6 separate regions of the Homo sapiens genome follow, and regions 1, 2, 3, 5 and 6 are each linked to region 4. The links come from fine-mapping of genetic effects on gene expression. A gene starts in region 4. Each other region holds a variant in brackets. All regions are shown on one strand. Distances are between the middles of the regions. Region 1 overlaps LOC105375937 (a long non-coding RNA gene). Region 2 has its middle 90 kb from the start of LINC02849. Region 3 has its middle 12 kb from the start of LINC02849. Region 4 holds the start of CA2 (carbonic anhydrase 2). Region 5 overlaps LOC107986954 (a long non-coding RNA gene). Region 6 has its middle 86 kb from the start of CA3-AS1.

What was found. PIP is the estimated chance that this variant, and not a neighbour inherited with it, causes the effect.
Region 1: its variant is fine-mapped to the expression of CA2 in whole blood (TOPMed, PIP 0.91).
Region 2: its variant is fine-mapped to the expression of CA2 in whole blood (TOPMed, PIP 0.91).
Region 3: its variant is fine-mapped to the expression of CA2 in whole blood (INTERVAL, PIP 0.94).
Region 5: its variant is fine-mapped to the expression of CA2 in prefrontal cortex (ROSMAP, PIP 0.95).
Region 6: its variant is fine-mapped to the expression of CA2 in whole blood (TOPMed, PIP 0.92).

What each region holds. Positions count from the first base shown.
Region 1 is chr8:85,517,676-85,522,753 of GRCh38, reverse strand. All of the region lies in intron 3 of LOC105375937 (a long non-coding RNA gene), which reads right to left. Among named protein-coding and RNA genes, the nearest start is that of CA3-AS1, 55 kb to the right of the region's middle. The variant T/C (reference allele first, on the strand shown) is at 2,581.
Region 2 is chr8:85,942,526-85,947,603 of GRCh38, reverse strand. No RefSeq gene overlaps it. Among named protein-coding and RNA genes, the nearest start is that of LINC02849, 90 kb to the right of the region's middle. The variant A/C (reference allele first, on the strand shown) is at 2,908.
Region 3 is chr8:85,864,397-85,869,474 of GRCh38, reverse strand. No RefSeq gene overlaps it. Among named protein-coding and RNA genes, the nearest start is that of LINC02849, 12 kb to the right of the region's middle. The variant G/A (reference allele first, on the strand shown) is at 2,840.
Region 4 is chr8:85,461,461-85,466,538 of GRCh38, reverse strand. It overlaps CA2 (carbonic anhydrase 2), which reads right to left and starts at 2,532. Exons shown (of 7, transcript NM_000067.3): 1 at 2,424-2,532; 2 at 1,070-1,267. The coding sequence starts at 2,457. It overlaps CA3-AS1 (CA3 antisense RNA 1), which reads left to right and starts at 1,624. Exons shown (of 3, transcript NR_121630.1): 1 at 1,624-1,957; 2 at 3,738-3,803. RefSeq lists enhancers at 1,924-2,423, 4,324-5,019 and silencers at 2,067-2,536, 2,647-2,966, 3,037-3,296.
Region 5 is chr8:85,971,102-85,976,179 of GRCh38, reverse strand. It overlaps LOC107986954 (a long non-coding RNA gene), which reads left to right. Exons shown (of 4, transcript XR_001745984.1): 4 at 391-2,387. Among named protein-coding and RNA genes, the nearest start is that of PSKH2, 96 kb to the left of the region's middle. RefSeq lists a silencer at 4,634-4,834. The variant AAG/G (reference allele first, on the strand shown) is at 2,497.
Region 6 is chr8:85,548,550-85,553,627 of GRCh38, reverse strand. No RefSeq gene overlaps it. Among named protein-coding and RNA genes, the nearest start is that of CA3-AS1, 86 kb to the right of the region's middle. The variant C/T (reference allele first, on the strand shown) is at 2,266.

The DNA of each region.
Region 1 (5,078 bases), 56 kb before region 4:
AACAGAAGATGTACACCTATCTCCTTGAGGCATAAATCTGAGCAAATATTCCAGTGACGTCAGCTAGAGTCTCTATTACTGCATACAGTAGTCCTGTAGAGTTATTCTTTAATTCATTCACTCATGCGTTGAAGATCTTCTATTTCCAGTCACTGTTTCAGGCTATTGAAGGCAATGTTGAACAAGACTTTCCCTCTTATGAAACTTACCTATTAGCTGGGGACACATAGAATGCACAAGGAAATTAACAAGAGAATATCAGGTGGTAGGTTTTTTTTTTTGAGCTATGCAAAGAATGGAAACATGATAACATGTTTAATAGAATGATTAGGTGGCTAATCTACACTGGGTGTCAGAGTAGGTTTCAGTAGGTGTCAGTAGCTAGGCTGAGTCTACTAAGCAGGTGCACCCAGTGACATTTTTCTTAATGTCTGGAGGAGAAGGAGTCAGAGAACTGCATTCTAAGTGAGAAAACAACTTAGGCAAATGCCTTAAGGTGAGAATAAGTCTGACTTATTCAAGAATCTTGTGGAAGACCAGTGTGACTGGAGCACAGACAGTTAGGGGAGAGTGGTGTGAGGTGAGGTCTGCAAGGAGGCAGAGGATGCCTCATGAAGGACATCATGGGATAGGGCAAGGGATTTGAGCTTTACTCCTAGGGTAAAAGGAGAGTATTGCAGTACAGTGGCATTGTACACCTTTAGCATTGTCCGTATATACTGCAAACATACAACATGCTAAAGAGGTTTGTGGGTTTTTCCGGGGTCCAAACCACCATATGAAAAATTGTTTCTATAAGAAATGCTTTCTGAATGCCAAACAAAAATTCTCACAATTTATTCGAAGCCTGATCAATTTATCATCAGTGCTGAGATCTTTTTTAAATATGGCTTGGGCATTATTTCAATATTGCTTTTATTCCTGATAATAAATTTGGAAAATGGGGAACTGCTGTTTGAATCTTCCAGGCCTCAAGAAGAAGGTGGCTTGTCATTTATCTCTCTCTTCCAGTGTACAACAAGGCTTACCACTTGCAGAATCTGTTTCGGGATGGTCATTTATATTATCTACTACTGAGTCTACAATTCTTAGGTCATTTAGTTTGTATTTGAAATGTTTTCTGACAAAAAATTTAATTCACACCATCTTCTCCTTCTTGATCTTAATTAAACCAACTTTCATTTTGAATTTTTCTGTAAGCCTTTTTGACCTAAAAAACATTAGAAGTAAATCTTTACCATTTTGAAAATTTCATTAGTAAGCAAAATGTGAAATGCAATTATATGTTTAGTTATTTGTGAAAATTATTCTCTAGGGTTCAATTATTTTATTTTGGGAAATACATTTCTTCTAGGATAAGAGATTACTCTAGTATATATCATGGGCCACATCAAATAATTTGAAACAAGTTGGAACTTAAATAAATATGTAAATGTAAAATGGTGTTTTCCACTAAGTCAATGACTATCTCATCCACAAAAGACTTCGCTTCAAGCAAGTTACTAAGACAGAAAATGATTATGTTTTGTATTATCATCTTAAATTGAAGCTCACTGTATCCTTACTGTAAATTACTTTCTGTAGGAAGAGATTTTGGGGAGTGTTTTTAAGACCTTAGATAGAGTCTTATAATGGAAGCTTACCAAGTAAATTTCACAGACTCAAAAATCCAGAAGCTAAATAAATTGATCAAGTAATATAATCAAATTAAAATAAATTTTATTTTCCAGTTATGGATACTCACCACACAATATTATCAAAATACTTTTTTAAAACTTCATTTTATGGAAAAGTTCAAACACTTCCAAAAGTAGAAAAAATAGTATAGTGAACCCTCATTTATACACCATCCAGTTTCCATAATTATCAGCATTTTGTCCATTTGTTTCAGTAACTCCTCAACTTTTGAGAACATTATTAAGAGCTGAAAATAATTATATGCATAAATTGGTCATTAGTTTGAAGTTAACTACAAGATCACTCTCTTTCCTAACACCATATATCTCTTTATGGTTTTTCTATTTTTAATCATAATTATTAGATTTAGTCCTAATTTCTTAAGCAAAAATATGGTCTTTAGTGACTTCCTGTCATAGTTTTTCAGAGCATCACATCTTTCAGTGCCTCGTGGGAATTCAGTAAAAAAAAAGCATTAATGGTTTTGGTTTTTCAGAGCCATAGTGCTTAGGTTAACAAGAGAGCAAAGCTGTGAAATAATACCTGAAAAGGACAAAACAGGAACTCCTTTTTGTCTGATAATTGTTGAGTTTAGGCCGTGACGGCGTTAATGACAGGAGAGCAATCTCACAAAATGAGAAGCAATGTAAAGGAATGTAATCTTCTTTTGTGCTTTTGCCTAATGAATAATCTTAGATTTGTTTCCCATACAGTAGAATCGAGTTTAATAAATCTTCACCTCTGCAGCATTATTTTATTTAGGATTTCTGTTATTTCCCCCTTGCAGCTCTGTGATTGACTGTCCCAACACCAGTATATTTTTGCATACTATCTACCTTTAGTCGGGGAAAATATTTATAAAACTCAATTTTAAACATGTTGAAATCCTGCAGAGGTTCCTCA[T/C]TGACTTCAGGGTAACAGCCATCACTTTAGCATGACTTAGGTGAACATTTCAAAACTGACTCCAATTTCTCTGTCTGCCATCATAATATGTTGAACTTGTTGCATGAACTGGAATGACTGTCCAGAATGCCCCTTTTGGGTGAAAACTAATCACACCGTCTATTTATTCTTCAGATATTCCTTCATTTAGGGGCCCTGAGTCGTCATCTGTATGAAGTGCTCCTCCTCTGCTCTCACAGAACTGAGCAGGTTATGTTTGTTTGTTGGTTTGTTTTTTGAGACAGAGTCTCGCTCTGTCACCAGGCTGGAGTGCAGTGGCGCGATCTCGGCTCACTGCAACCTCTGCTTCCTGGGTTCAAGCGATTCTCCTACCTCAGCCTCCCGAGTAGCTGGGACTACAGGCATGCAGCACCACTCCCAGCTAATTTTTTGTATTTTTAGTTGAGACAGGATTTCACCATGTTGGCCAGGACGGTCTCGATCTCTTGACCTCGTGATCCACCCACCTCAGCCTCCCAAAGTGCTGGAATTACAGGCGTGAGCCACCGCGCCTGGCTGTGAGTAGGTTATGTTTTAAATGTCCATTTACATCCTCATTCCCAACCACATAAAATACTCCCTGAGGCCAGGGATGGTGTTGTACTCATCTTTACATCCTCAGTGTGTTTCCCGTTGCTCTGCATGTACTAAATATCCAATAAAGAGTTGTTTAATAAATGGCTGAAGTAATGAATGAAAGATGCACAATTCTGCTTTTATTTAGTAAAAGCATTTTACCAAAAGGAAAATGGAAAATCATCATTTGGAGTGTCATTTTCTGCCATAAAAGTTATGGTGGCAACTTACTTCTAGGCAAGTATAGGATTCTAGATCTATTTCTTAAATATACCTATTCCAGATCTATAATCCTAAAATATTATTCACTGATATCAGATCCATGTTAACAATGTACCCCGTCAAGATTTCAACAGTACATGTGAGTTTAATAAAAGTCCTCTGCTCTCTCATATCACATGGGTTGGTGAGCCACAACCCAGATAGCTATAGGTTCCCTAAGAGAGCTCCAAGGAAACAACAATGAATAAGAAGAAGTTGAGTCTATTTTTTCCCTCAAGAAAACAAGCAGACCTTTCCCAGAAACTGATAGACAAAAGTTACTTAGGTTTCTTGTGGGATTTATTGAGTTATGTTATGAGTGTGTATCATTGTAAATTTAAACCATGCGTATATTTATACACTGTCTCAAGTCCTTTCAGAAACAGACAGGAGCATAAATTTAAAACAAATAACAGTACAAATTTATATATAACTACAGAATTGTTGGCACATGCTACATGATATGCTGGCATACTCGTTTCATATTTGTAAGATCAAATTGATCAGTGTTATTACCAGCAGTATGGCTATATTGCTTTGCTTTATTTCTAAGAGATTTGAACCTTATTACTTTAAATAGAAAATGTGACTGCATCATTTAAATTGCTCTGATCGTAACCCAATGCAATGCATAACAGAAAAAAAGAGTTGAAAAACTGTACCCTTTTTAAGAACCCAGGGAATACGTAATTCTTTCCAATACATTTAAGAATAGTTTGTCTTGAATGTTGTAATTCAAGTTACAATTTATTCTTATTCTTTCTTATATGCCTTGTACAAAAAAAAATAAAAACGGTTTGCATCTGTCTCTAACAATGCATATTTATAATAAGGCTATGAAAGAACTTTCAGATTTAAAGTACGCAATATTTTTTTAAAGTTCTCCAATCTTTGTTTTTTGTTTTGCTGTGTTTTGTTTTTGTTTGGAGACAGGGTCCTAACTCTGTTGCCCAGGCTGGAGTGCAGTGGTGTAATCACGGCTCACTGCAGCAGCGACGTCCCCAGCTGAAGCGATCCTCCCACCTCAGTCTCCCGAGTGGCTGTGACTACCAACGTGGGCCACCACGCCCAGCTAATTTTTTGTACTTCTTGTAGAGAAGAAGTTTTGCTATGTTGCCCAGGCTACTCTCGAACTCCTGGGCTCAAGCCATCCTCCTACCCTGGCCTCCCAAAATGCTGGGATTACAGGCATGAGCCACCACACTTGGCCCTAATTCTCCAATCTTAGTCTAAGAATAATAGGAAAAATTATACGATTCAGATTCAGATTCCACAAACATTTATTGAAAAGCTACTACAGGCTGGGCACAGTGGCTCATGCCTGTAATCCCAGCACTTTGGGAAGCCGAGGTACAAGGATCACCTGAGCCTGGAAGATTGAGGCTGCAGTAAGCCATGATCCTGCCACTGCACTCTGGCCTGGGTGAAAGAATGAGAATCTAACTCAAAAAAAAAAAAAAAAAAACCTACTACATGCCAGCCACTGCACCAAGTTCTTCCTATGGTATCTCATTTGCTCTTCATAACAATGTGGTGAGGAAAGTATTATTACTGTTTCTATTTTATAGATGGGCAATTGAGACTCATGGGGTAAGATGCTTACTATCACACAGGTAGAATGG
Region 2 (5,078 bases), 480 kb before region 4:
ACATGAGTCTGACAACAGATTTGTATCTAGAATACATAAGTGTTTATTAAATATTAATAAAGATTAGTGTAGCTAAAATTAGAATAAGAATACATCAGAATATCTAAGAATATAATGCAACTAGAACTCCCATAATTTGCTTATGAGAATGCAACATAATAGAGTGACTTATTAAAACTGGAAGTTCCATAAAACATTAAACATTCCCTTGCCATATGACCCAGCCATTCTACTCTTACGTGTTTACTGAAGAGGGGGCACAAAGACTTGTATACAAATGTCTGCAGCAGCTTTATTCACAATAGCAAAAAACTGGAAATAGCCCAAATGTCTATCAACTGACAAATGCATGAACAAATTGCGGTACATCCATACGAAGGAATATACCTTTCAGCAAAATGAAAGAAATACCTACTGATATGTACAATAATATATATGGCTCTTGAAATCCTTATGCTGACTGAAAGAAGCCAGGCACAAAGCTGTGCATACTGTATGATTTATTGAGTTGGTGCAAAAGTAATCATGGTTTTGCCATTACTTTGAAAGGCAAAAACCGCAATGGCTTTTGCACCAACCTAATAATTACATAAAGTTCTAGAAAATGCAAACTAATCTATAGTGACAAAAAAATAATTAGATTAGTGATTGCCTGAGGCTGAGAGTGAAAAAAGTAATGGACCGTAAAGAGGCATAAAAAAAGTTTTGGGGGAGATAGGATATCCTGTATCTATCTGTTAAAAATTCATTGAATTCGGCCAGGCACCATGACTCATGACTGTAATCCCAGCACTTTGAAAGGACGAAGCAGGCAGGTCACCTGAGGTCAAGAGTTCGAGACCAGCCTAGCCAACATGGTGAAACCCCATCTCTACTAAAAACACAAAAATTAGCCAGGCGTGGTGGTGCAGGTTTGTAATCCTAGCTACTCGGGAGACTGAGGCAGGAGAATTGCTTGAACCCTGGAGGCAGAGGTTGCAGTGAGCCAAGATTGCACCACGGCACTCTAGCCTGGGCAATAGAGTGAGACTCTGTCTCAAAAAAATAATAAATAATAAAATTTAAAAGTCATTGAATTGCACACTATGAAGAATGCAGTTTATTGTAAGAAAATTATACCTCGTCAATGTTGGGGAGAGCAAACTCATTAGCGACAACAGCAAAAATATGTGGTTGTATATTTATCTATTCCTCTTTGTGTTTCTGTCAATTTTTGATTTTCATATTTTGAGGTTATGTTATTATTTGCTTATAAATTTAAAGTGTTTCATTTTTGTAAAATATTGAACCTGTTATTTATATGAAATTACTTTATCTTTGGTAATGCTTTTTGCTTAAGAGCCAGTTTTATCTAATGTTTATATAGCTGTGTCTGCCTTGTTGTTTGTTAGAATTGCATAATATACTTCTATCATTTTCTTTAGACTTATCTTTATGTAAAGCACATATCACTTTCTTTAAAACAACTCTGACAATGCTTGTCTCATAACAAGTATTTAGTGCATTCAAATTCTATTTTTTTTTTTTTTTTTGAGACAGGGTCTTGCTCTGTTGCTAAGCCTGGAGTGTAGTGGCATGATCATGGCTTACTGCAGCTTTGACCTCTTGGGCTCAAGCAATCCTCCCACCTCAGCCTCCGAAGTAGCTGGGACTACAAGTGTGTGCCACCATGCCCAGCTAATTTTCTTATTTTTTTGTAGAGGTGGGGTCTCAGTATGTCACCCAAGCTGGTCTAGAACTCTTGGGCTCAACTGATCCTTCCACCTCGGCCTTCCAAAATGCTGGGATTACAGGTGTAAGGCACAGCACCTGGCCAATTCAAATTCTTCAAAGATATTTTTTATGGATATATAATCATAAATTGGCAATTATTGTATTTCTGCACATAGAAATGATCATTCTACTGGCTTTCATGTTCTATTATTGTGCTTAAAACACCTCTTTGCCATTCTTTTGGTGATCTGCTTTTTCCCCGTGGCTGCTTGAAAATTGCTGCATTTTTCTTTGGTGTTTTGCAGTTTCACCATGACACATCTAAATGCAATTTCCTTTATTGAATCTGTTTTCTCTGAGTTCTGAAAAATTATCAGCTATTATCTCTTTAATTTTTGCCTTTGTTTTCTTCACTCTTCTTGAGTTTGTCTTCTTGCATAACTTTGATTAAGAGTATGTTAGCCCTTCTCTTTATCCTTCATGTCTCTTGGTTAACTGCCATGTTCTCCATCTTCTTGTCTCAGTGCTGCATTCTGGTTAATTTTTTACCTTTCAATTCACTAAATCTTCTTCAGCTGTATCTAGTTTGTTCTTTAATCCCTCACCTGACTTTTTATATTTGCCTTTCAAATTTTTTTGTTTCTTTTATATTATTTGTCTCTTTTTCAAATCTGTTATGCCTGTTTTTATAGTTTCATTTCTTTGCAGATTAAGTTGTCTTCTATATCTTTAAACAGAGTAGGAATACTTTTTTTCATAGTTTGGATAATGTTAATTAAGTATTTTGGGATTTGTTTCGGTGATTTAATGTTTCTGCTGATTGTTTTTCATGGTGCCTTGTCTTCTGGTATATTTTGTTAATTTTCATTGTGGATTATTCAATGACTAATTTTTAATTGAATTACTTAATCACTTTTTATGATTATTTAAGACCTAGCATTAAGGTGCCTTCCTGCACCAGGACATGGCTGTGGTGACCATAACATCTCAGGGACTTTTTATGCCTTATCTCTTTTCCTGTTTACTCAGTGCCATGAGAATTTTCCTAGGTTCCCCTGAGGAGTGTGTGTGTGTGAGGCAGAGAGTAGAATGCTTATTTATAGTTTGTTTTTGTTTTGTTTTGTTTTGTTTTGCTTTGCTTTTACCATGAGATGTAACCTTCTGGCATGCAATTCGATGTGGGGAAGCTCTCAC[A/C]GTCAGTTTACCACCTTGGGTGAACTCTGGGGCTTAACTTCCGTCTACCTAATACCATAAATTCAAATATACTGGGTTCAGCAAATGCCCCTGAGGCAGAAGAAGCTTCAATGTTCCATTTATTTCTCTGAATTCCCATTTGTTTTTAGGTTTTGGATTGGCAGTCTCTTACTTTTTCATTAAATATTTTATTCTTTTGATAATATTCTTTAAAATCTTACATAGTCTTTTAATTTTTTTGGTAGAAATTTAGCCTGAATCTAATTTGCCATTTATTGGAAAAAGAAATCCTCTGTTCTTTGTTGTTATTATAGAAATAATAACTTAGAAATTAACTAGTAGAAATGATTGAACACATCTTTGAACATGGAAGTAGAGCACAAGTAAAACAAGTTTGACTTGAGGTGTGAGGCACTTATTTCCTTTTCTGAGATACAACTTTGCAGCATCAAAACTCTGGCTAGACTGAGTCACCCCAGTACAATTGTCAGCTTTCAACATCATCCTTAGTGGACTCTTACGAATCTCAAAGCATGTGAAATTCATGGACACCTACAGATCGTCACTTATATAATGTCTTCAAAGGGGAGCTGGGAAATGATGACTTAATTATTTTCTATGAAGTCCTAATGTGATTACATATACTCCTAAGTTTCGTTGATTAACATACAGAAGGCTTCTACGTTAGCAATATGTTCAAGTTAGCCAAATCTTCAGGTTTGTCAATCTTATAGAAAGTCATAATTGAATTTTGTGTCTATGAATCACTCTGCAGTTTCCCATTTATTTTAATGTTGTAATGAAGTAAAACTTTAAAGCTACTTCAGCATATAACAGAAGTTCTTCAGAATTATCTCCCAAAGATTAATTTGGTTAATAGTAATAATAAAGTATTTCTTAAAGTATTAATTTGACTAGTTATTTTCTATAATCTCCTCTTCAACTTACAACTATGGTTGAAAAGACAAGGAATTTTATGATAAGAAGAGAGATAATGATTTCATGGTTTATTTGAAAACTTATCAACTACATCATTGCTGGGACATGTTAAGTTTGAAATAGGCACAGACATTTTTGATAGCTAATAGAGACCAGAATACAGGCTGCAGAGAAACAAGAGTTGGTCTTCCACTCCCATTTGGGGATCAATGGGATCATAGCAGAGTCTCATCTGCTGAAGTATGTCAACTAGTGGTAGACAAATTTAATAGGCATGATTCTTACTTGAAATATAAGTAAAATAAACATTAGGAGAAATAAAGCTTTCAAATTTTCATCATGAATACAAAATTTAAAGCAAAATATGTTCAAATGTTGAGAGAATCTCTGCTTATAATGAAGAGTGAAATAAGACAAATCACTGAAACTTATGAATGCCATATATGTAAAGTTCTATATCTGTTTCCTGGAAAAGAAGACCATTCAAGTCATGTTTCTGGTGAGGGAAGAGACAATAAATAAGGAAAATCATCATTTCCAAATGATTTATTTTTAAATATATCATTTGGAATTGATGAATTTAAAGATAAATCATTTGGAAATTATGATTTTCCTTATTTCCTGCTACTCCCAACATTATATGTTTAAAAAAATTCAAAGAATTTTAATAGACAGAATCTTTCCTCTATTTCAGATGCCACATTTACTGGCATTTGTAGCTCTACTAAGACATAAAAGTCAATATGTCAACATGAAATTGTGAAATATGAGGCCTGCCAGTTGATGAGAAACTATCTTCGAAATATCAGACTTTATTAGTATTAACCAAAATAGTCTTCATGAGGTAATTCTGAAGAGCTCCTGTTACATGTTAAAGTTCTTGCTTTGAAACATTAACACATTACAAAATTAAAATAAATGCAAAACTAATTCATAATCATAGAATGATTCATAGACACAAAATTCAATTGTCACTCTCTGGAAGATGGAGAAACCTTAAGAGTTGGCTAACTTGAATATATTGTTAATGTAGCAGACTTCTGTATGTTGATCAATGAACATTTAGAAATATATTTTATCATATAGGCCTTAATTCTTTTCACAGAGATTCCCTAATAGACTAGGTCATAATTGATGATTCCTTATTCAGAATCTTACAAATCTGCCAATGGGCTTCCGGTGCTGTACTAATCTGATATGCTTGGCTAATTCTTTTTATTAATCAGAAGTTA
Region 3 (5,078 bases), 400 kb before region 4:
CCTTATACAAAAATTAATTCAAAATGGATTAAAGACTTAAATGTTAGACCTAAAACCATAAAAACCCTAGAAGAAAGCCTAGGCAATACCATTCAGGACATAGGCATGGGCAAGTGTTTCATGTCTAAAACACTGAAAGCAATGGCAACAAAAGCCAAAATTGACAAGTGGGATCTAATTAAACTAAAGAGCTTCTGCACAGCAAAAGAAACTACCATCGGAGTGAACAGGTAACCTATAGAATGGGAGAAAATTTTTGCAATCTACTCATCTGACAAAGGGCTAATATCCCGAATCTACAAAGAACTCAAACAAATTTACAAGAAAAAATCAAAAAACCCCATCAACAAGTAGGCGAAGAAGATGAAGAGACACTTCTCAAAAGAAGACATTTATGCAGTCAACACATACATGAAAAAATGCTCATCATCACTGGCCATCAGAGAAATGCAAATCAAAACCACAGTGAGATACCATCTCACACCAGTTAGAATGGGGATCATTAAAAAGTCAGGAAACAACAGGTGCTGGAGAGGATGTGGAGAAATAGGAACACTTTTACACTGTTGGTGGGACTGTAAACTAGTTCAACTATTGAACCATTGTGGAAGACAGTGTGGTGATTCCTCAAGGATCTGGAAGTAGAAATACCATTTGACCCAGCCATCCCATTACTGGGTATATACCCAAAGGATTATAAATCATGCTGGTAGAAGGACACATGCACACGTATGTTTATTGCAGCACTATTCACAATAGCAAAGACTTGGAATCAACCCAAATGTCCATCAATGATAGACTGGATTAAGAAAATGTGGCACATATACACCATGGAATACTATGCAGCTATAAAAAAGGATGATTTCATGTCCTTTGTAGCAACATGGATGAAGCTGTAACCATCATTCTCAGCAAACTATTGCAAGGACAGAAAACCAAACACTGCATGTTCTCACTCATAGGTGGGAATTGAACAATGAGAACACTTGGACACAGGAAGGGGAACATCACACCCCGGGACCTGTCAGGGGGTGGGAGGAGGGATGAGGGATAGCATTAGGAGATATACCTAATGTAAACGACGAGTTAATGGGTGCAGCACACCAACATGGCACATGTATACCTATGTAACAAACCTGCACATTGTACACATGTACCCTAGAACTTAAAGTATAATTTAAAAAAAAAATTTGTCCGATTTGTTTTGTAGCAATGGATAACTAGAACACTGGGGAAGTTACTTAAGCTTTCTGAGCCTCAGTTTTCACATGTTTAAAATGGGAATAATAAGAGTAACTAAAACCACATTGAGCTTTTATGAGTATTATACGAGATGAAAATATATCCATGTGGCACATCACAGTACTCAATAATGTTAGCAATTATCATTTGCAAAGATAGTTTAGACATCCTGACCAACCTAACTAGGTAATATTTGTAAGTTTCCATTTACCATGCATGATGATACTATTTTTTTTTCCTGAGACAGGATCTTGCACTGTCACTCGGGATGGAGTGTGGTGGTGTGATCATGGCTCACTACAGCCTTGACTTCCCAGGTTCGAGCAATCCTCCCACTTCAGCTCCCCGAGTAGCTGAGACTACAGGACTACAGGCACGAGCCACCATGTCCAGCTAATTTTTTGTGTTTTTGGTAGAGACAGGGTTTCGCCACGTTGCCCAGGCTTGTCTTGAACTCCTGGGCTCAAATGACCTGGGCTCAAATGACCAGCCCTCCTCGGCCTCCCAAAGTGCTCAGATTACAGGCGTGAGCCACAGCACTCTGCCTCATGTTGATACATTTTGGATAAGGGTGTATTCTGTAAATAAAAAACTAACTTCAAGGTAAAAAAAAAAAAAAAAAGAAACTTATGTTGTCTTCTCTGATTTTCATAGAGCTAATCTGGGCTCTTCAACATCTCTAGTTTTCAATTAGTCCTCAAATTAACTCTTCATGGTAGTGCTCTTAATTAAGCCTACTTTGATCTGTGTTAATCTATCTTTAGCCTAACTTTCAAGAGCTGCTTTGTTTTCATGGTCATGGCTCTACAAAGTCTGCTTTGCCAGATGATAACTATTATTGTGTATTTATCTAGCTTTGTGTTATCCTTCCGTTTTCTTCAGTATCAGCCTTGATATTGAGAAATGCTTGTTCCTTCTCTGAGTTTCTCAGATCAGAGATGATAAAATCTGGCCCAGTGATTTATCTGCCACTCGACTATCTCTGTGTAACCTCTAACAACCCCATCGTTATGTGAAAGTTCACTGTTACAGAGCTTCCCAATACAGGACCTGAGGAAAAAAACAAATGAACACTAACATGCCAAGAGTCAAAGATTATTTTTTATATTTCCAGAAGCGATTTCCTTCCCCCTGTAAAATGGCCAGTTCATAGATTGCTCGTGTTATTTGATAGTTATGGGATGTAAAAACCTTGAGAGTATGTCAGATTTTAGCCATGAACATAAAAGTTAGAATTAAGAAAGAAAAGTCTATGAATTTGAACATTCCTATGCTCTGGAAATACGATCTGCATATTGTGTTTACCCCTGAGGGTGAAATGGCTCAGTCTGATCAGCCAGCTCCACAAGGATATCAAAGCTCAGATACCTCTGGGTTTTAATGTATGCACCATTCTCTCCTTGGCCTCATCACAGATAGGATAGAGGGCTGCAGCCCTTATCTGGAAACCACAACCAGTGCTTTTTGCCCCAGTTGCTTATTCCATTTTCTTTAAGGTCTTTAAAGAAACTAGACAGGCTTCTATGTGGCATTACCTCTGGCTAGACTAAGCTGCCTCATTCCTTGCTTCCGTTACAATCCAGTGAAAGGGAAGGCC[G/A]GGGCAGAGTTTCTAGGTGAATAATGCAACTCTTATTCCTTGTTCTGGATTGAGTCTGGATTTGTTTGATTATAAGTTGTATTGGTTTGCTTAATGTTTTAAAAATATATATTTGTTTGTATAGTTGTTAAACCTCAGGTCCCATGCTCTACTTAATGTTTTTTAAAGTAAACAACAAATGCAAAGAGTCCTGTGTATGCTTTTTGAAGGATCAAGCCTGGACCACAGACCAAGACTCATGAAACTCACTGTGATCCCTTTGCCATTCTGACAGAACATCCTGCTCCTCTAAAACAGTCCTGCATGCTTCTTTTAGAGAAGCTGACACTGCACACAAATATTTAGAACTAGTTTCCCAGAACTGTCTACAGAGCCACTTCATAAGCCACTCAAGAAAATATGGCTCGTTTGTTACCTGAGTATCAATGCCTCAATTTTATTAAAAACATAACAAAACAAAACAAAACAATACAATCTTCCTGCTATTTTCGAGTTTGGTTCCCCACCATACTTATAATTAACTCTTGATGAATTTTGAGAGTTTTTCACATATCAAGTCTTCCCTCAAGGTAACGATTTGTCACTGTTGAAGATACTGGTGTATTGAAGAAAAAAATAATTGTGGGTCAGAAGTTGAAAGTTTGTGTTCTTACATCTTGGATGTTGACTTTGTGAACAGAGTCACTCACTTCCCTCCAGTCTCCATTTTCGGCTGTCAAATGTGTTTAGAAGTCATTCTTTCAAGTATATATTGAGCGGGATACAGTTAGCAGTGTGCTCCTGGTATATGAATTGTGATAATCCCCTGATTAGTATAAGGACTAGATTAGACAATGTGACAATGTTTGTGCACTGGCTCCATGAATGTAAGGTGTTATATAATTGACACACTTCTGACCCCAAAAAACAAATAAAAAAAAGTTCTGAAAATATTTTGATCATTGGCAGAGTCACCAGAGTAAATATTTGTCTTACCAAGGTGCCTGGGACTAGCTGAGTATTTATCAAATGAATAAATTTACTGAACGCTGGGACTGAAGAAGAAAATCAATAGCTATACCTGTGGTCTGTTGGAATATGTGAATAAATGATTAAATAATGATACTCATAAAATGTATATTACTGTGTGTTAAGTGAGGTATCTGACATTATTTAACACTTGAACTTCATATCTTAAGAAAGCTTATACTTGAGCATTATACTGAGCATTGAGTGAGGCAGGCTGAGTGGTGCAGGAGAAATGTCTTGGTCTTATTTTGTGTTGCTATAGCCAAATACCACAGACTGGGTAATTATAAAGAAAATACATGAATGTGGCTCACAGTTCTGAAGAATGGGAAGTCTAAAAGCATGGCACCAGCATCTGGCAAGGTTCATCCCATGTGGAAGGGCAGAAGTGAGCATGCAAGACAGAAAGAGCATGAAGGGTGGACTCCCTTGCATAACAATCCACTCTTGCAATACCTAGCCACCTCCAGTACCAACTTGATCTATTCATGAGTCCTCTGCCCCTACAGACCCAATTACTTCCCAACACTGCTGCATTGGGGGTTAAGTTTTCAACACATGTATTTAGAGGACATATTCAAATGATGGGATCTAAACTCAAAATAATGAAAGTCAGTGGGGCTGCAGCTAATACCACTATGGTTGTTAACAAAGCCCTTTATATTTCCCTGTGATTGCCCTGATCTAGGGAAATAAGGGTAACATCTTGGGGTTACGTGTTATGTTTGTTGGTGTTGATGGTTGTTGTTTAAATCAGTAGACGTGTCTTGGGTGGCATTAAAGCCGGGTTATGGCCCTAGGGCACATACCAGGAGGTAAAATGGAAAAGACAGCTGGAAGTGGGCTGCATATGGGTTGGGAATGAGAAAGTCAGCTCAGGATTTCAACTTGTCTATTGCTGATCCACAGGGAAGGTAAACCATATAATGGAAACTTAACAATATATTAAAACATGTAGATTTTTTGGAATGTTTCTCTTTTAGAATTGCTTTCATGATTTCATGTACAGCCTATTTAATAGTACTTGGAATTTTTTTTTAAATGCATGTTTATTCATTAACATCACACTTTTTTTTCCCCAAAAAACAATTTAAAGTAGATTACTGTTCCACTTCTGAATTCCTAGGTCGATTTAAAAAATTTTTTAAATCTTGCTAGTTAATTTGTACTTTAAAACATTTAATGATCCCATCTTTATTTATATAGTTTTCTAGTAAAAGTTTAACTTTTA
Region 4 (5,078 bases):
AAATTTTTTTAAAGTTGAAAGGAGGGAAGAATTCTTTTTTCAAAACCAAGTTGACTATATAGGATAGCTGCTGACAAAGAATAGTCTACCTGACTAAATGGTTATAATTACATATTATATAATATATTAGTACCGTAGGTCACTACTCCAAAACTTTCTCATTTTGTTCCACCACTCCCCTCACTCCCACACCACCACCAAACAAAATGTGTTTGCAGCACCATTTCATTCTATGACCTTCAGAGGAAAGCACTCAGGAAAATAGGGCACTGGCAATTAAATTAACTGCTTAGCAAAGAAGGCAGCTACTATGTGTGAATGGGATTGTTCTCTTGTTTCAAAAGAGAGAGAGATAAAAAAAAAAAAGCAGGATTTTTTTTCTTCTTTCTCTTTCTTTTTTTTTTTTTTTTTACAGTGAGCATCCTGTAAACAGCTCTATTACCAATAAATACGGTAATTGGTTTTGTCAGTAATGGGCCAGGTATGTTCACCAACTCTAAAACATCTTCGTTTGTGAAATGAATTTCTGAGTAGATATCAAAACATGCTGCCATCTTTATCACACTAGCCCAATACTAAGAAATACTCATAAGTAAAACATTTTCCCAGAATTTCAGTATTTTAAATTGGCACGTTTTTGTTACTCTTCTCGCTGCTAACTTGAAGATAAGGCTCACTAAGATATACTTTTTAATGGATATGCATCAGCTCTGCAAGACAAAATATTTTACAATCTTAAAAGTTCAATTGGTGCAAATCTCATCGTGACTGATCTTTATTGCGAGGGGACTTTGCACCTTTTGTGATTTTTCACAGGCATATCGCAGTTATTCAATGGCCTTCATAGAAGCCAAGGGTTTTACAGGGAAGAAACGGCCCCGGGACACTTCAAACTAATTAGCCTACTTCTCAGAATCTGAGACCTAATGAAAATGATCAGGGTGGCATCCTTGAGTCCTGAGACAAACTGTATTATTAAGAGGGTTCCTGCCACTGTTCCTGGCTCCTTCCATTAAGCTCGGAAAACAGCTACTGGCTAAAAGACACAAGTTATTTTCTAAACACTGACCTGCTTTGTCCTGAGAGTCATCAAACTCCACGTTGAAAGCATGACCATTGTTGAGGATCCTCAGGGAAGTTGCTTGATCATAGGAAACAGACAGGGGCTTCAGGGAAGGGTCATACTTGGCTGTATGAGTGTCGATGTCAACAGGGGACTGGCGCTCTCCCTTGGCAATGGGGAAGTCCTTATGCCAGTGCTCAGGTCCTGGGGGAAAGAAGACATGTGAATCCCCCATTGTGGGGAAAGGTACACCCAGACCCCTAGAGAAGAGCAATCATTCCGGAGCCAATCTGCTCAGTTCCAATTTTAGAAGCATCACTTAACAATGGGCTAAATTTTGGGAAAACACGTAATCTGTGCCTCAGTTTCCACATTTGTAATATGGGATAATTAGAAATCTACCTCATAGATGTCGCTGTAAGAATTAGAATCGATATATGTAAAGCTCTTAGATCACTGAGTGCTATATAAATATTAGCTATTTTAAGGTCGTTTTACTGAAATTCAGCAACTGAAATCGGGCAGACACTAATGTCAGGGCTTGTGGTTGCGATTTTGGGATATGCAAGCTCACTTAAGACATTCAAGGAGGTCTGGATCCTTTCCTCACTGCCCAGGCCCGGGCCCACCCCACCTTTAACCGTCAGGGTTCCCCACTACCTGGGAAGCCCCACACCCTCCAAAGATGCGCTAGGTGCGCCAGACGCATGCTCCTCTGCTCCGCTGGCTCCGAAGAACCAGATCTGAGGCCAAGATAAAACCCGATTCCTGATGTCCGACCCCCTAACATTAGAAGTCGAGAGATGAAGGGAAAACTCGGAAATCAGAGCCATGGATTCAAACCAGCACTGGAAAATGCCCCGGGACAGTTCGTGCTGAGCGCCTTAGCCACAGGTGGTGCTGAAGCTGGAGGGGTGGGGTGGGGGTGGAAGGTGGGGGAGGGGGGAGGGGAGTCTCTTAATTTCTCTGCGATCAACAACTAGAATTTTCCGTTACAACCCTTTCCCGCCTCCTCCTAGGTCCGGTTAAAATGATCCCCAGGTCGGGACCCGGGAGGGACTGTCCTCGGGTCCCGCGGCCAGGGCTGCGCCTCCCCTCCCTCGGGCCCTACGCGCCTCCGGCGGACGCGGGGATTCCTCCACAGTGGCCTCGCAGCTGGGGCAAGGGGGACATCCCCGGCGCCGCGGAGCCGCGAGCGGAGCGAGCGCCCGGGGCGCACCTGAGCCTCCAGCACTCCCCGCGGCCGCGGTAAACAGCATGTGCGGGCGCTGCGGGCCCCGGGCCGGCATCCGGGCTCGGGGATCGGGGATCGGGGATCGGGGATCGGGGCGCCCCCGCGCTGGCCGTCGCCGGCACTCACCGTTGTGTTTGCCGTACCCCCAGTGATGGGACATGGTCGCGCTGGCGGTCGGGGCAGGGCAGGAATCGGCACCGATCTGGCGGCGGCGGCTTGGGCGCCTGCACTGTGTGTCCGCGGGTCGCGCCGGCACCAGCTTTTATAGGCTCCCGCCAACTTCGTGCTCGGGGGCGGCCCGGGGGAGGGGGCTCGGGTGGACCTAGGCGACAAGGGGAGGTGGTGACGGGCGGAGGTGAACTCCCCGCGCTCGGGGCGGGGCGGGCCGGGCGGGCGAGTCTCCGGGGGCGGGGAAAACGCCCTCTCGGCTGGCGCCCGGCGGGGCTCCGGGGCTCCGGGGCTCCGGGGCTCCTCTCCCGCCGCCCGGCTCCCCTCGGCCCACGGCAGGGCCCCGGTGTCCTGGGCTGGCAGCGAAGCTCGGAGCTCTGGGCGTGCGGCGGCTGCGGTGGCTCCTGGGCTCCTCCGTCCAACCCGGGCCGCGGAGCCTCTACGCGCACCCCATCCCCCTCCCGGCTGCGGAGTCTGGCGGCGGCGGGGACTGCTCGGGACCCGGACCCCCGGCGCCTTTCGTCCCCTGTCCCCATTGTGACCTGTCTCTTGGCCCCGGAGCCCTCCCGCCCCACCCGCGCCGGGGTCTCCAGCGCGAAGGGCTCAGTCTCTGGTGTCCCCGGCCTGGGGCTGGCAAGCTGGGTTAGGAGCTATGACCTTGGGGCAAATAGGGATACGATCCTAGAGGCGCAGGGGAGCGCGCAGCATGAGTGCTGAGAGGCACGCGCCCTCTGCTGCACGGCCGTGGAATAAAACGAGACAACGGCCCCACAGTCCCCTGCCCGCAGCCCACGCTCGGGCGAGCCTGGAGGATTGCATTTCCTCGTAGGCTGGCAGAGCCTTACATGAAGCGCTCATCTTCTCCTACTTTCCTCCTCTTTAAAAAATTAACGTGGGTGAGGAGACGTCCTAGTTGAGTACATATTGATTTGAAATAACCAAAACTTTTAACAAATCACTTTTCTCAGAAGAATCCAGTAAGAGAAAGATAATTTCTTCCAAAGACATGAGACGTTCCCTGGCTGGCCAAGAAAAATTGGCATCTGGCATACCTAGGAATCATTCAAAATAGTTTAATAGGAAGGACATTTTGAGGCCAGCCAGCATTATGACATTTGTGGGTCCTACGGCATTTCACCTTGGTGGGTCCCTTTTTCATAAACACGCATTTATACCAACACTGACATAAAGATAAATATCTTAATATTATATATTTAAACATTTTCTTTAACCAACACCTAATTTTTTTCTTTTTTGTTCTTATTTTAAAAGGAAACATTTTCCTGGGCATCTAAAAGTATTGTGGACCTGAGACACTGTGCTTACAGGGCCTACTGGGTAAGTGAGGCTGTTTTGAGATATAGAGAGAATTCATTTCCTACAAGGGATTTTGCCACAGAAAAATCCGGGGGTTTGTGGGAAGGAGTTCGGTTCTGTGGTCTCTGCAATCTCTGAGGGCAATAGTATTAGAGTTACAGTTGGGGAAGCAGGACACAGTTTAATGTGATTGTGTCGGCCTTGACATCACATTACTTACCTTTGAAAATATACAGATAAATACAAGGATAAGTTATTAGTGGACATTTTTGCAATATGTATCTCAAAATCACTCTTTACTATTTATTTCAGTCAATTTCATCCAAACAAATATGATTCATGTTTAGACTTACTTGTTCTAAGATTCTAGAAAATTGTGTACTTCTGCTTATGTGGGTTTTGGGTTGATGTCACAGGGAATTCTTAGGCAAGAAAGCAGCAATAAAGTTTTTAAATTTTTAGGACCATTACAAAATGGAGTTTGTAGCAAAGAAGAAGCTTTTATTTGTGCCTCTGTAGGTGCATTGTATCTGTTGGGGCCCATTGATGTAATTTTGTTTCTTTACATAATTTTCAAATATTAACTTAGTTGCTATGAGACTCTTCACTTGGCCCTGGAGATATGGCGTTGATAGGTGCCAAGAATTGAGTGCAAAGTTTGTGAATGTAGAGTGGCTTCCCGGGATTCTGTGGAGGGAGCCAGGCGATTTGATCAGCAGGAATCCTTGTCTTTCATTTTCCGTGAAACTGGATTGTGGCTTTCCTAACAGGGATGAAGTAAGAGCATGTTTGATTCTTAAATATGCGTAAAACTTCAAACACCACCAAACTGCAGTTCACCAAATGGATTATTGTCATGGGAATTTTTCCTTATCTCTCACTTCTGGAAAGTGAATTAATTCTCAGTGGGAGCAAGCCCTCCCCACAGAGCTGCTGTTAGGGAGAGTGTCACATGTTCACCACAGGGTGGAGAGTGGTTCACCTTTGGTTACTCAGAAGCAATCTAAATTTTTTAGCAGCGTTTTTGGTATTACAGTGGTTGGCTTAGCATTGTTTTATTTTCCTGGTCAATTTTTTTTAATGGAGTTAACTTTATGCATTCATGTTGGTCAGTCCCAACCTAACTTTATTTTACTGAAGGCATTCTTCTTAGCAGGCTGTCATGATTCACTAGCTGCAAAAGACTACTCTAATACTGGATTTGTTCAAATAAAAAAAGTGCTTATCTTATTATGTACCTATCTTTCCATTAGAGGGAAGGATGGGTTCATTTCAGAATAATCTTAAGTAAAGGAA
Region 5 (5,078 bases), 510 kb before region 4:
AGCTGGAGATTCCATTAACCTCTTAGTCACTTGCACAGTATGCAGAAGTAGAAGCTTGCTTCTGAGTAGTGTCATTTCTACTCATAGGCTCCTCTGCTTCTGCATTCTTTGAGGAAGCTCCAGAGAAACCTGAGTTTGAATCTTAGCTTTACCACTTACTAACTGTGTGCTGTAGTTATCTATAATAGCAAGATAATATTTTTCCCTTATCATAAGAGTGATGTGAAGCCTAAATGAGGTCATGCGTATAAAGTGTTCAGCATGAATGGAACCTTAACAAACCCCCAACACTTTGTTAAAGAAATGACATGCTTTTTCTAGGCTATTGCTCTGGATATAAAGCAATTTTGAGAAAGGTCTTACTTGGACTCTTTTTGGTGTCATTTTCAGAACAGGGCAGGAAATTATCCAACTTGCAAGAGAATGCTAGCTGAAAATCGTCCCATCTTATGGAAAACCGGTAGAAAATCCAGGAGGTGAAATGGAGAACATGTTCAACTGGAGAATTCTATTTCTTATGCATGTCAAATATGTTTCCTTCTCCTGCACTAGCTGTTCCTTCTGCTGGAAGAATATTTATATGACTGGCTAAACTTACTGTTCAGATCTGAGAGTAAATTTGCATTTCTCAGAGAGTTAGTTCCTGACCACCCAACTCAAAGTACTAACACTCTATCTAGTCCTTTTCTTGTTTGTTTTTCATGTTTATTTTATTTCCCACCACTAGAATCTAAGCTTTTTGAGAGCCGGCACTTTGTCCATCTGGGTCACTGAATCCCAATGAGTTATTCACAGATGTTTTTAGTACATAGTAGGTGAAATGCATAGATAATATTTCAACTAAGAAAGTGAACAGAAGAAAGTTGGTCATTGACTTATTACTAGTAGCTCACTACTCTCTATGTATGAAGACATCACTTACTGATGGTTATGAAGCAGATGCTCAATAATTTTTTTTTAATAAACAGGAGGGCAAGGAGCCAATGTCGTTTGTAGTGGAGGGTAGTCATGGACACTGAGAGTATGTTTTAGACACAATTTATCAATGGCCAGCCTCAGGCTGAGATAAAATATAACAGAGTTTGCCAAGGTCTTTCATGCCCAGGCAGTCAGTGCTCACATGTTCCCTGTAACTGCCTGGGTACCTTTCCCTGAGTCATCAGTCCTGTGTCTTAATTCTTTTAGTAGCACCTGCATTCTGCTCCTTTAACCTTCCATCAATCAGCTCTTATATACTGTACATCTCTTTCTCAAGAAGCCTTGTGCAACGCATGGTGATTTCAACAGTGATGAATATTTCCTTCCCTCTGACTTCTTATGAAACCAGGATAATGAAGCAAATTAGAATGTATTTTAACATCACTCTCCCTTGTTTGCTGTCCAGCTAATGAACAGTGGACTGGCTGAAGAAAGACCAGCATGAAGCAGAAAAATTGTTTGGTGAAAAATTCAAGAATGGGCCAATATCCATTAAAAGATTGAAAGAGGAGATGTTTTGGGTCCACCTCCACTGGGGACAGAAATTCCATTCTGCCAACACCCCCTCCATATCCATTGTCTGAAAGAGGCACTGCTGTTGAGTCATAAGTAGGCTCCAGTGGCCCATGTTGACCCTTTGAAATTCCCATGGGACTGTCAATTCTATCTATTCTGGGAGCAGCCAACCATAGCTAATTACAGGCCTGTGGTATTAGTGGAACAAGCTTCAGCTTTTTACATTGGCTTGATGGAGAACTGAGTAGATATAAAAGTGTTACATGTTTTTCTGTAATCATAATAACGTAATCTTGTTTCATAATCATTAATAATTCCTAACATTTATTGAAGAGTTAATATGTGTTGAGTATTTTTGTAAGTGCTTAACATGCAGTTTTTAAAATTTTAACTCCTTTTTACAGAAAAGGTTTACAGAACGCCAGAGGGGTAGGTGATTTTGCCAGAGCTCTTTTAGGTAATAGGAAACAAAGCCATAAATTTGATCCCAGCTAGTTTGACCCCATAGTCCAAGCATTAATCCCTGAACCACACTAGCTCTGGCAAGGGTATAAATGAGCAGTGATTACTAACTGACTTAAAACACAATAGGAATTATCCCCAGTGAATTCCAACATATAAAGGGACACTAATTCTTGCCATAGAAAATCTATTTGATAAGTATGAACAAGAATTCCAAGGTTATCAAAAATAATTTCTAATAGTTTAATTCTTTAAAAGAAATGGTGTATCTCATGGACACAGGAAGGGGAACATCACACTCCGGGGACTGTTGTTGGGTGGGGGGAGCGGGGAGGGAGAGCATTAGGAGATATACCTAATGCTAAATGACAAGTTAATGGGTGCAGCACACCAACGTGGCACATGTATACATATGTAACAAACCTGCACATTGTGCAAATGTACCCTAAAACTTAAAGTATAATAATAATAAAAATAAAATAAAATAAAATAAAATAAAATGTCTCATTCTGATCACTGTCAAAAAAAAAAAAAAAAAAA[AAG/G]AAATAGTGTATCTTATTAAGCATAGTCTCTAAGGCAAAGAACTATACTTCGCCAGTGGCCTCAGGAGGGCTATCACAAGTTATTTTTCTAGATGGATTTTCCATCTGTTCCCACTAGATGGTGCATGGGTTACACAAATACCCCCAATCTCTACTTGAGAGGAATTACCCTAAAACAAGAAGAAGAGAAATTGAGCAGAGAAAGGTGAATGTGGAATTTGGACTCAGTTGAAGATAGTAACACCCTAAACAGTGACTTGCTAACTATTGGAGCCTGGGTTTCGAGTTCCATCTTTTTTTTCCTCTCAGAATAAACACTAATAGCTACTTAATATGAGTTAAAGAAAATTTGAATCATAGTCAAAAGCTGTCTGAGAGTTTGTTTTCTCAGAAAACTGTGTTACCCATAGTTGCAGCCAGGAGTGGCATTTTGAAAAAGATATTGAGGAACCAATTCCAATGAGCCAAATAAGTGTGTCCTTTAATTTTAATGTGTGTTTTCTAGAACAAGCCAGAATCTGCAAATTGTTATTTCTTCCTAATTTTCCTCAATTAGTTTGTAATAAAATGGTCATGAATAGCCAGTTACCACTTTCTAGTAATCATACAACCAATTATTATGATATTCTAAAATTCCAGATAGTTCAATGAATAGGACCAGAAAATTCTGGGAAATCCCTTGAGAATAAATTTTAAAACCAATAGTCATTTATTGTATTTGAACTTTCATGTCTTCCTCTACAAAATGAAATAGATCACCAAAAACTCTTTGCAGACTTCTTTATGATCTCTAAAGAAAAAGAGAACAGTATGAGTGCTTATACCCAGAAACACACATATGTACATATACACTCTCCTGTTTGAGTCTAAAAGAGAGTTATGTTCTGTTTCCAGAATCAGGATTATGTGGAAACATTATTATGTTTGCTGAAAGGGTAAGAAAACAAAACTTCATTTATGTACAAGGATGAGGTGGTAATTGGAATTAGGTACTGCACAAGAGAGTACTACCATACATTGTATTTTTCTCAACTCATGTAGAACCTGTTTTGAGGCAAAAGATGGTGATGTGATTATAGGTACTAATGTGCATTTCTAGATTAATGTATTACTTTTCACCATATGAGAAGTTCTTTTCTTAACTTTTTTTCTCAGGTAAATCTATTTGATAACTATTTGTATTTAGTACCTCTAAAGATTGAATAGAGCCATCTCCCAATTAATTAATCGTCAACCTCATCTCAATCCCTTCATAAATGGGTCAGTAAATATGCCAGCCCTGAGTTGTGCTGGATAATCTATAATTTAGTACAGAAGATAGAAAATATTCAGTACAAGTTTTTAGGATATGTAAATGGTGCATAAATGGTTATTCATTTCTCTGAAAAGAGTTTTAGTCCCAGAAAGGAATCAATCCTTAACTGAAAATACAAAGAACATTTGATTGTAGTGTCATCAGTCATTTTATATCAGAATAAATGCTTTATTTCCAAGAAAAATGGTCAATAATAGGCTCTGTATGTCCTTTTAAAGCTGATGTTTCAGGAAAAATGAAAAAGATTATGTAAGGTTTCAGTTAGCACTGAATAGTTTCAGCACCAGGTACCTGGGTGTTGCAGATAGAAGTCAAAGGAAAAAGAGGATCTTTAGATGCTCTGTAGAGCCACTTCTGTATCTTAAATCTTCAAAGAAATAAACTTGGTCTATAAATGAAAATGAGTGTTCCAAGAGCCAGGGCACATCATCCAGTGAATCTGGCTATGTTAGAAATGCTCCCTTTTCTGAGAAAAAAATAAGTGCTGGGTTCTATGACATGGCCAAAAATGGAAGGTTTTTTCTTAGCTTGCAGTCTCTTGGGATCACATATCACTATAACTCACTCAGATCCTCCAAAATGCAGAAGATTGATGTCTACAGTGCTGGGTATTAAACCAGGTAATTAGCTCACTGTGTCCATCATAACTTTATTATAATGCCATTGATTAGGAGTTAGTAACAAATAATGATGACAATTCAAAATTACTTGCATAAGGAAAATATAACTAAAAAACAAACACACAAAACACTGGCTAGTCAAGGAAACACCTAACACACCAATTCTTGAAAAAATCATCTAGTAGATAAGGCTTGCAGTTGTCAGCCTATGGAGAGCAAAAGAAATTTCTGTGAGCTTTCCTAAAATGCTCCTTAGGGTATGCTAATATGGAATTATTTCCTTTCACCTATTTCCTGCAGCCTATTCTTACGCGGAGGAAAAAGAACAGCCCCAGTGATTGAGCGCTTAGATAAGATAGCTAGTCTCTTGCTTACTGTTGGTTAAAAGGAAGTCACGTAGTTGTGAAACCTTCGAACCCTAAAGGAAATGGGTGGTATTTGATGGCATAAAATCCACTGGATGCCTTATCTTCCAAGGTCTGGATGACATCTTTTTAATTTCTGCTGCCTATTTCATTGACTTCCCAGGTCAAATGAGTGAGACCTATTAATAAGATGCTTCACACAACCTAAGTTGTTGAGTGGTCTTGGATTTAGTATCTCTGATTTGATCTTAGGTCTTTTTAAAACAACATTGCTTATTTT
Region 6 (5,078 bases), 87 kb before region 4:
CGCTGTGTAACAGGCCTACTCCCCCTTTGTCTTCCACCATGATTGTAAGCTTCCTGTGGCCTCACCAGAAGCTGAGCAGCTCCAAGCACCAGGCTTGTACAGCCTGCAAAACCATGAGTCAAAAAATCTCTTTTTTAAAATAAATCATTCAGCCTCAGGTGTTCCTTTATAGCAACACAAAATGAACTAATATAGATGTCCTGTCCTTAGGGGAAAGTTATCCAAGTCCTAGGATTAGAAATATATTTTCAATAGCCTAGCCTCTGGAACAAATTATATCTAAAATTTAAAAAATTTGAAATTAGTTGAATCTAGAATCTGGTAGGTAGATAGATCTAGTGGGCTGAGAGGAGGCCCAAAGTGTGCAACTCATTTCTTTGATTAATGAGGTACTAATGGCTAAATGTTGTTCTAGAATCATGTGTCTCCAGTCCTGCCTGAGGCAGGACTGTATAATGTATATATACTCATGCCTGAGTGTACTATCCAACCAACAACAAAACAAGCTGCTACATTTAAATGCTAACTTCTGCAGATATACAAATGACCACACACTGACACTCAAATATTTATTCTTATTAATAATAAACCTCAAAATCTAGAGTACTGGTGCAGACACCCTGTTTATTTAAAAATATTCCAAGATAAAGCCACTGCTCCTCTTGCAAATATATGTGCTACTTTGTTGAATAATTTGATAGGAATTTTAGGTTAAACAACTATTACCTTTTGTCCCAGGCCAAGTTGCCTTTTACTGATTTAAATGTTGACTACAGCAAGTGGAAAGCATAAAAAATATAATGATACAGCCCTATAAAAAAATCAAGAAAGGAGAGGCGCAGTCCTGCCTGAACAAATATCATTAAGCCTAACCATACCTAGAGGGCAGGGATTTGTGTCAGTTTTGTGTCTCCGGCGTCTAAGAGAATGCTTACGAGCTGGAGACACAAAATACATATTTCTTAAATGAATGGTCTTCAATTTTTAAATTCTTTTCCATTTCTAATTATAAACTCTACATCTCATTCTCTCATTTATTTTATTCCATTTTCTCCTTTTTATGTGTAATATCTTCAGTATCTCTAATAAGCACATCTCTGTCTATCCCCAAGACACATGCTAAGCAGCTTAATGTGATGCCCATGCATCTCCAAGGTGTTTCCTAAGGGAAAAGGGAGATTTTGGAATCTTGCAGGATCAGATTTTGTTCTTTGGAAATAATAACTGAGTAGATGAAAATCTGTAAGACAATCACTCTTTAAAACATTTACTACCTTGGAAGACCGGGAGGATTGAGGGTTGAGTCAAGAACAAGCATCCTTACTAAACATATTTTATTTAAATAAGAAAGCTTTTGACCACCAACAAAATTGTTTTTAAAAATACAGCAACAACAACAAAAACCAGTGATCCTGTGAGATGTAATTACACCTCAGGACACCACATAATTTTAATTATGCCAGAATATGTTGGAATATGGTGAAATGTATAGAAAACGTGTCCATCTGAAACCCTTTACTGGACGAAAATGTATTTCACAATAGCAAGCTCAAGCAGTAATGAAACCTGCAGTGTATCAGGATGACCTTTCAGACTGTGCCAATATTGACAAAATCAAGGAACTCTTTGGAAACCTAGATAGGACAAGCAAATAAGAAACGCCAAGAGATCACACTACATACTTAAGTCAACCAAACAAAGTTTGTTTGTAACTTGACAATATTCCTATGAATCAGAAATTATAATGCCTTTAAAAAATGTGTTGGGGTTCTAAATTTTAAATTTGATCTCTTGGAATTGTTCATATTATTTTTAAGAAATTCCCAGACTAGCAATTAGCTCAAATAGCTTTTTAAAAATCAACTTGCATTAAAATTAGTTAGCATTAAAATGTTCTATATTATTGAAATATGTCGAAGCCACTTCAGGTGTTTGCCTGGAAATCATGGAACCATATGTATGCATATGGTTATGTATGCATGTGTATGTATATGCATGTTTATGTATGTGTATATTTATGTGTGTATATACCTATATATGTCTGTGTATGTATGTGTGTGTATATGCATAATGTTTAAATATCTTTAAGTATAAAAACAACAAAAAATTCCAACGCAGTGCTTGTTTAGGGTAAAATTCAATGCAGATTCTCAAGCCTTAGCATATTAATGCTCTCCAGCTCAAAAGATCAAATGTCAGCATCCCACAGTACTTGTAGCAGATTTAAGACAACAGGGAACAAGAATCCCAGATGCTTTGCCTTAT[C/T]AGCAAATCTTTTTCAGGTAACTAATCTTTAGCTCATCATGCAGTTTTGCCACCTAAGAGATTTCTTTTACTCCCTCTCTTAAGTGTCTGTCTGACTGCATTTGTTCTAACAACTTAACTGCAGTGTCCTGTCATTATTACCTGATTTATTAAGTAGCCAAGGGTCAAACATGCTTGAATGTCTACAATAGGTATCAACAATGTGGGCAGCATAATAAAATGAGATCCAAATAAATGACTGTGTTATAAATATTTTATGTTAGTGAAAAAAATGGTAAAAGCTTTTGGGCTTCTCTGAGTCCTTCTGAAAGGATGTGGTTTTTAAACAACAGAGCCACTTCAAAACCAAACTCTAATTTTAATTCAAAGATGATGTCTCTCAGTGTTCCACACCTGAACTCCAGTTGGTATGTAATTCCTAATAAAATTTCTAGGTAAAGGACGTCACTGTTTTTGTCACTGGATAATATTCTGAATACCATTTCCATCTCAGTAGCCTGTATTTGGCAGCTTAATAGTGCTATGAAGTGAAAGGCATGAAAGAGGACTACAGTGCTGGTGTTTGGGGAGTGAAGAATATTTTTAAAGCAGTTAAGGCAGGAAAGAATAGTCTGGGTCTAGGGAAAATAACTTATTCAAGATTATTGGAAAAAAAAATGCAGATAGCATCACAAAGCTAAGTCTCCTGCTTTCATGTTAAGGATGAAGGATATTTCTTAGCAATTTTGAAAGTCAGCCAGCCTTTAGTTCTTTTGCATTATAATGAGCCACTTCCTTATTCCCTGCGTATGCACCCTGTTGTCCTTACTGACCTTCATTTCTTTCTATAATTGTGGTAACATTTAACATGAGCTCTACCCTTTAAATAAATTTTTGAGTGCACAATACAGTATTGTTATCTACAGGTGCAATGTTCTATAGCTGATCTCTAGAGCTTTATTCATCTTGCCAGACTAAGACTTTATGCCCATTGATAAGTAACTCATTTCCTCCTCCTCCCAGCCCCTGGCCACTATCATTCAACTTTTTCTATGAGTTTGACTACTTTAGATAGCTGATCTAACTGGAATAATGAAGTATTTGTCTTTCACACTGGCTTATTTCACTTAGCACAATGCCCTCATTGACACATATGGCAGGATTTCATTCTTTCTTTAAGGCTTAATAATATTCCATTTTTTGATATATATCATATTTTGTTTATTTACTCATCCTTCAGTAGACATTAAGGTTGTTTCCACCCTTGGCTATTGTGGATAATGCTGCCATGAACTTAGTAGTGCAAATATCTTTCAAGATCCTGATGTCAATTTTTTTTAATAAATACCCAGAGGTGGAATTGCTGGATCATAAGGAAGTTTATTTCCACACTTGCTCTCATCTTCATCAGGGTTATCCCTATTCACTCATCAGGTCACATCTTAGCTGTCACTTCCCAAAAGAAACTTGTCTGGCCCCACCCTCTCACAATTGTATTTCTTGACTTCAAAGTGTTACAACTCAATAAGCATAGACCCAAGGTCACCACACTTCACCAAGCCTTCTTATCTCCTTCTGTGTTCTTCCCTCAGGGAATGGCTCCACATTCATGCAGCAAATCCATCCATCCACGCAGGGGCCCAAGACAGAAATGTGGATGCCATCTTGGTTCCCCTGTTTTTGTTCCCAACATCAACTTGGTAAATAAGGTTCTCAGTCAAATCTGCCCACTTCTCACCATGCCTACCCTGACTCCTCCGATTCAGGTCACCATCATCATCTCTCACTTGCTTGATGACAACCTCAGAGTTTCCTGTTCTTGGCTCCCTGATATCTGTTCTCTACTTTATTGTCAGCCATCCTTCTAACATGTGAATCTAATCATTTATTCTTCAGTGCTACCCATTTACTAGTCTCCGTTGCCTTCAGGATATAATCGAAACTTCTCATCACGATTTACAGGGTATTTCATAATCCCTAATCCATAATCTGTGTGGTAGATATTATCACCCTTAGATTGATTATACAGAGATACACCTTTGATTATACAGAGATAATCAAATTAGAGTCTCCATGATATTGAAAACCTTGATTAGTATCATACAGCCAGGAATTGGTGGTGTTAGAGGTGAATTCATATTATAAGCTTGAATAATGCATTCAAGTTTGATTCATATTTAGAAGTTTTAATTTATTTTTTGCCCAGCAAGATATACATTCTAGGGTCCCACTTAACATACTTATGATTTTATACACAGTATAGCACGGTTAAATTTCATTAGAATGTTACTTGTGTATAAGTTTTTAGACAACCCTTACTTGTTATCTTAGTTGGGTTCTCCTCAAAACAGAATCTGATAAAGGATTTGTGTGCAGGTAATTTACTTGGGAGGTGATCCCAGGGAGCAGGAGTGGGGAGGATTTTGAGCCAGGGAAGGAGAAATAGTCAACAGAAGTATGTGTTAAGGAATGCCAATGCTATGACATTGGGGCTTAATTTTGTAAGGACCTCATAAAAAGTGTCCTGGATGCCTCCCAGAATTCCTACCTGAGGGACAGAAAATGGAGAACTTTCCATCAGCTTCTGGCCTCATTGGCTAAGAGTAGCCCTCAGGGGTATTAACTTCCCCCAAGGTTCTAAGCTGCACATATGCAACAACCAAGCAAGATCCTGCCAGCTCCTGGGATCTGCAGAACTCCAGGTCAGAAAGCAAAAACAGGCAGCACACATATAGTCTCTCTGCCAGAATGATGTGAATTGAAGACCACATAGACCTGTCTAAAACAAAATCCGAGATAGTGGCCTTGAGGATAAATCTGGGCACCAGGCATCT